Linked DNA regions of Homo sapiens. The protein of the gene in region 1 purifies or fractionates together with the protein of each later gene. This does not show direct contact. Each region holds a gene or a part of one and is shown on either strand. Other genes may lie near its edges.

Evidence for each region. Proteins that work in one complex are often made in the same cells at the same time.
Region 2: the proteins of KIAA0930 (region 1) and RAB3IP purify together in Homo sapiens (affinity purification with mass spectrometry, with the first as the bait; one large-scale study listed by BioGRID). This does not show direct contact.

The regions. Positions count from the first base shown.
Region 1 is NC_000022.11:45,230,895-45,234,394, reverse strand, and holds part of KIAA0930 (uncharacterized protein KIAA0930), read left to right. Parts: intron 1-3,500.
Region 2 is NC_000012.12:69,818,860-69,821,279, forward strand, and holds part of RAB3IP (rab-3A-interacting protein isoform alpha 1), read left to right. Parts: 3' UTR 1-2,420. UniProt on the Homo sapiens protein: Guanine nucleotide exchange factor (GEF) which may activate RAB8A and RAB8B. Promotes the exchange of GDP to GTP, converting inactive GDP-bound Rab proteins into their active GTP-bound form.

The DNA.
Region 1 (3,500 bases):
TTGCCAGTCTGTGATCCTCCAACCTTGTCTTCTTACCTGAGAGCTCTCCCCCTGGCGTTTCAGGCTTGTCTTCCCCGAGCAGGAAGCAGAGGCCCCCTCTTCCCCATCGGAGGACCATGAGGCCTGGGAGCTGAGCCCTGAGCACAGGCCAGGCCAGCTCCCCAACGGCACCCACACGCACACTGACCTTCCACTCCTGGTCACCCCTCACTGCAGGCCACCCCAGCTTGCCGGGCCTCAGAGACAACAGAGACGTTTGCCCCTCAGGGTCAGTACATGTGCCCGGCCTCTGCCAAGGCCCCCGGGTCTCAGAATTCAACCAGCCTCTCCCTGTCACTGCTGTAGACAGGAGCTCTGCAAGCCCCAGTCCAGGCTCTCCCGCTAAGGGTTCTGTGGGATTGGGGAAGCCCTGGTGCATAGCTGCAGCTCCTGTGCAGCCCCAGCCCCGCTCTTCTGTCTTCTGGAGGCCCTTGTCCCTCTGGACCTCTGATCCCTCCTGCATGCGGTGCTGGGCTAGGCAGGGCCAAGCGGGACTTGTAAACAATACGTCATCTAATATCATAACCCCTGTCAGGTAGGAGTTAGCCCGTGTCTTACAGGGATGAAGCAGAGGCTCAGAGGGTTGAGTAGACCTTCCCTCGGTCATTTCCAGCAGCTTGGGTCTGGTGCACTCAGCTTCCTAAGAGGGCAGAGCTCACTGCCTATCACCCAAACCCGGCTGTCCTGCCCACCCTCCCAGCGTCCTGAGAGCAGCCACCAGGTCCCCTGGTGAGTCAGCCTAGTGAAGGTCCTGCCACCCGGGTGGGCACCCGGGCTGTTCTGCAGCTGAAGTAGAAGCGTGTTTTGACTGGATGTGATTTCCCACTTTCCAGGTGATGCCCGCCTCTGGGCCTTTATGGCTGTGGCTGCTGTGCTGAGGGGAGCTTTCCCACCCAGGCCTACCGACTCCTTGGAAGTGGGGCTGCATGCCCTGCGTGGCCTGTGCTGGGGAACTCGGCCTAGCACCTGTGCTTACCCGTTCCACTTGAACCTCAGCCTCCACTCCTTAGAACACCTCGCCTGCCTCAGTCTGCCCACCCTGTACCACACCGTGTCCAGAGCACAGAACCCTGGGGAACTTTAAAACAAAATGCCCATTCCTTCCCCCGACCTGGGCATCTGAGTGAAAGTCCTCCTGGGGGGCCCTGGAGTCTGTGGTGTAATTCATTCGTTCCCTCTGTCTGGGTGTGTCAGCCTGAGTTGGTGGCCACTGGGCTGTCTGTTTACCACCCCTGCCCCCATGTGATAGATGGGGCCACTGAGGCTCAGAAGCAGGAGGGACTGGCTGTGATGCCTTCCTCCACCTTCCTGATCTGGCCTGCTCCCAGCCACCTGTCCTTGGATCCACCTGAGCCCCAACAGCATGAACCTTAATGTCATCGACATTGACACCTGGCGGGGGTGGGTGGGAAAATTAACACTCCACGGGGTCCCTTCCTCACCCCCAGAGATACCTGTGCCCCTGAGTCAAAGCCGAACTCTGCACATCAGGGAAACGGAGGCTGAGGTCACATACAGAGCCCTGGCTCAGCCCCACCACATGGAGAGGCGGTGGGCCAGCCTCCCCTGGAGCCGGTCCCCACCCAGCCCACTCTGCAGGATGGGCATTCTCCTGGGAGAAGATGTGACTCCAGGCTTCCTGTGCCTGATGAGCTCTACCCTCCCAAGGTAGGGGGGCAGTTTGCTCCCAGTGTCCCAGTTTCGGCTGAGGCAGCAGAATGCCCTCTGGGTCACAGCCCGTCCTGGGGGAGCTGGGATGGAGAGAGTCCCAGAATTCAACCAGCCTAGCCCTATCACTGACACAGACAGGGGAGACTCAGAGTGGACCCCGACTGTCTCAAACAGGGTGAAGAATCAGGAGGGCTGGCTGCCTGATCTCACCAGTGCTGCCTCTTGCCCCGTGGTGCAAGTGAGGAGACCGAGGCAGGTGAACAACAGGCAGAGTTCCCTTACTCCACGTGTCCATTATCTTTAATGTAAAAGGGCTTTGTATTGGGATGTGCTTTGAATCTTGAAAAATGCTTTTCACACTTGGAGCAACACTTATGGCAGAGAAAGGGAGAAAAGCAGAATACAAATCCACATGTTATGAAGCGTGTGGATTATCCATGTAATTATAATAGAGAAGTGCTGCCCTGCACACCCTCGTGTGTCCTCACAGCAGTGCTGAGCAGAAGGCAGGAGGGGTGTTGTCCCATTTACAGAGGGGGACCAGGCCTCAGAGTGATAGGTGGACCTGGGGTGAGGTGGCCTTGGACTAGGCTTCTCCCTTCTGGTTCTTTCTGAAACCTTGCTTCATAGGCACCTTTCCAGCAACAACAGCCATTCAAGACCCTTGTGCCTGTTAATTTTGTTTGTTTGTTTTGAGAGGGAGTCTCGCTCTGTCACCCAGGCTGTAGTGCAGTGGCGCGATCTCGGCTCACTGCAAGCTCCGCCTCCCAGGTTCACGCCATTCTCCTGCCTCAGCCTCCCGAGTAGCTGGGACTACAGGCACCCGCCACCACACCAGCTAATTTTTCGTATTTTTAGTAGAGACGGGGTTTCACCATGTTAGGATGGTCTTGATCTCCTGACCTTGTGATCCACCTGCCTCGGCCTCCCAAAGTGCTGGGATTACAGGCATAAGCCACTGCGCCTGGTGTGCCTGTTAATTTCTTACCTTCTCTGCAGTTTTTACCCCTGTCTGAGTGTACATTTTTATGTATTTGTAGTCACCATTGTGTCATTTGTGGAGGTCATATATATTGAACCCTGGAAATGCAGTGCTGAATTAGGGTTGATCTGACTCTTGGGAGCTTGGCCCTCCCTGGGGAGGGGGTGGTGGCAGGCAGGTACAGGCTGATTGTTCATGCCTCTGGCTTCCCACCCCTGCCTCTGTATCCTGTTCACACACATCGCTGGGACAAGCCCAGACATCCCTCGGATCTTCAGGCCCCACTGCCAATGTAGGAGGTGAAAACTATCTTTCTTCCCATCTTAGGTTCATGGCTGAGGTTCCTATAACAAAAGGCAGAAGAGAGAAAAGTATAATTTAGTGTAAGTTTTACATGATACAGGAGCCTTCATAAGGAAGTGAAAATCCAAAGAAATGGGCTCAACCTGTGTATTTTCTTTCTTTTTTTTTTTTTTTTTCTGAGACGGAGTCTCAGATCTTGGCTCACTGCAACCTCTGCCTCCTGGGTTCAAGCGATTCTCCTGCCTCGGCTTCCTGAGTAGCTGGGATTATAGGCGGCCACCACCATGCCTGGCTGATTTTTATGTATTTTTAGTAGAGAGATGGGGTTTCACCATGTTGGTCAGGCTGGTCTTGAACTCCTGGCCTCAGGTGATCCATCTGCCTCAGTCTCCCAAAGTGCTGGGATTACAGGTATGTTGAGGCACCGTGCCCAGCCTCAACCTGTTTATTTTCTATGCTAGGTTTGATAAAGAAGTGGGTCATTGTGGAGGAGTCTGACTGGATA
Region 2 (2,420 bases), on another chromosome or scaffold:
ATGTTTTAGTCCCTGGGTTAGGTGGTGGGTTTTGGGGTGGTTCATTTGTCATTAAAAGTAAGTACATGAGCTGGGTGTAGTGGTGCGTGCTTATAGTCCCAGCTACTTGGGAGTCTGAGATAGGAAGATCCTTGAGGCCAGTTCAAGGCTATAGTGTGCTATGATTTCACCTGTGAATAGCTACTATATTCCAACCTGGGCAACGTAGACCTTGCCCCCCTTTAAAAAAATTCAAAAACAAAATAAATGCATGGACAAATGAATAAGAGAGTTATGCATGGAACATCGGTGGTGTATTATGAATCAAGCATTATTACTAGCTCAGTTATATGTGCCTTCATTCCAAAACAAAAAATAAAAGGTAAGAAAATTGTTGAATTGCATTTGAGAGAGAGGAAAGGAAAGAATTCAGGTCTGAATCTTAGGCTTTTGGCTTGAGCTATTGCAGTTTATTGAGATGGGGAAATACATGGTGGGGAAAGTTTGGGTATGTGCATAACAGAGACAGAAATTCAGTGTTTGACAGATCAAGTGTGAGGTGCCCACTGAGCATCAAAGTGGATATGTTAAGCAGGTATTGGATGTACAAATCTAAATTCAGTAAGGTCAGTCCAGGAGAAAATTTGGGGAGTAGTTAGCCATGGGATCAGATGGGCGCTTTAGGGACACTTTGGAGATGAAGTACAGCACTGAGCCCTGAGTTCCTGTGACAGAGAAGCAGCCTGCAAAGACGAAAGGAGGAGCTGTTAGGAAGAGCAAGGCAACAGAAAAGGAAGAACCAGCATGCTGATTATGTTCAGGAGAGTGTTTCTACGCTGAATTTAATTGCCAAGATTACCAATTCTAAAGAAGAGGAGGACTCTTGGACAAGTTTTTAGAAGTTGGTTTGGAGCTGGGGTGAGAGCCTGGCCTAATGGAGACAGCTCTGGATTGGGAGTCACTTAGACCTACATTCTGGTCTAGGTTTGGCTCCCAAAAACTGGGAAGGTTAGTTAGGTGGCCACTCCTCTCTCTTCATGGTCTCTCTCAGCTTGAAGACAATTTACAGTCTTTGACTAAGCATCCACACTGGAAGAACAAGATTTGGTTTCTGAACATTGGGTCTTAGTCCTTAAAATAACTTGCAACCTGTTACGTCTTCACTTACTCCCATCGCCACCACAAGAATCCTGTGTGTTTTTGTTTTGTGCATCCAGTCTAAAACGGGTCTGCTTTTATTCATAGGCTTTTGTTTTCAGTGGTTTTTGTTGTTGCATTTTTCCCTAGATAAAATGTTTTTTCTATAAGACACTGCTTAAAAGAGTCCAATGCAGTATGAATTTGTATTTGTGTTTAACTTTTGTGCTTAACAGATCTGCCATGGCTGAACTCTCAGTTGCTTAAGCAAAATTCTGGGGCTTATTCTAGGTTCCTTTATTTGTCATTGTCACTCCCATTCCAGTTATCAGCAAATTCCATCAGCTGTCTCCGAGACATCTTAAATCTGTCTACCTCCCTCCATGTCCACTGCTACCACTCTGCCCAAGCTATTATCATCTTTCACCTGAACTCCTGCACTAATGTCTGCTGTCCTTGCATCCACTCCTGCCCTCCTACAATCACTGACGGCAGCCGCAGGGATCTTTATAAAACGAAAATCAGATAATGTCACTTCCCTGCTTAAAGCCCTTTGAGTGGCTTCCCATTGCACTTAGAAAAAAAAAAAAAAAAAAAAACTGGCCAGGTGCGATGGCTCATGCCTGTAATCCCAGCACTTTGGGAGGCCGAGGCGGGCGGATCCCCTGAGGTTGGTAGTTCGAGACCTGCTTGGCCAACATGGAGAAACCCTGTCTCTACTAAAAACACAAAATTAGTCAGGTGTGATGGCGCATGCCTGTAATCCCAGCTACTTGGGAGGCTGAGTCAGGAGAAACGCTCGAACCCAGGAGGCAGAGGTTGTGGTGAGTTGACATCACGCCATTGCACTCCAGCCTGGGCAACAAGAGTGAAACTCCGTCTGAAAAAAAAAAAAAAAAACCCAAACTCAATAGAAAATCAAGTTTTCATAGTGGTAGTTGTTAACAGAGAAATAACAATGAAAGCTTTAAAAAACTCCATGAAAATTTGCAAAACTTAAAAAAAAAATGTAGAAGAGGACTAAACTTGATAAAATATTAAAAGAATTGAAACCCTTCCTAAAGGCAGCTTCTCAAGGGAGCACAAGTTCACACACAGTTTACTTTTGGAGGAACGTCTGAGGTCATGAGGACTAGATTCTAGAGCTACAGGTCTCAGGGACAGTCTCGAGGGATACAGGGCCCCCATCACCACATCCCCAGATTTAACCGCAGCAGCTCAGCTTTTATCTGTATCTGTTGGAGCTCTCTAGGAAATGTCAATACCAAAGCAAACCCAAATCACAACTAGATTAGATTACTATT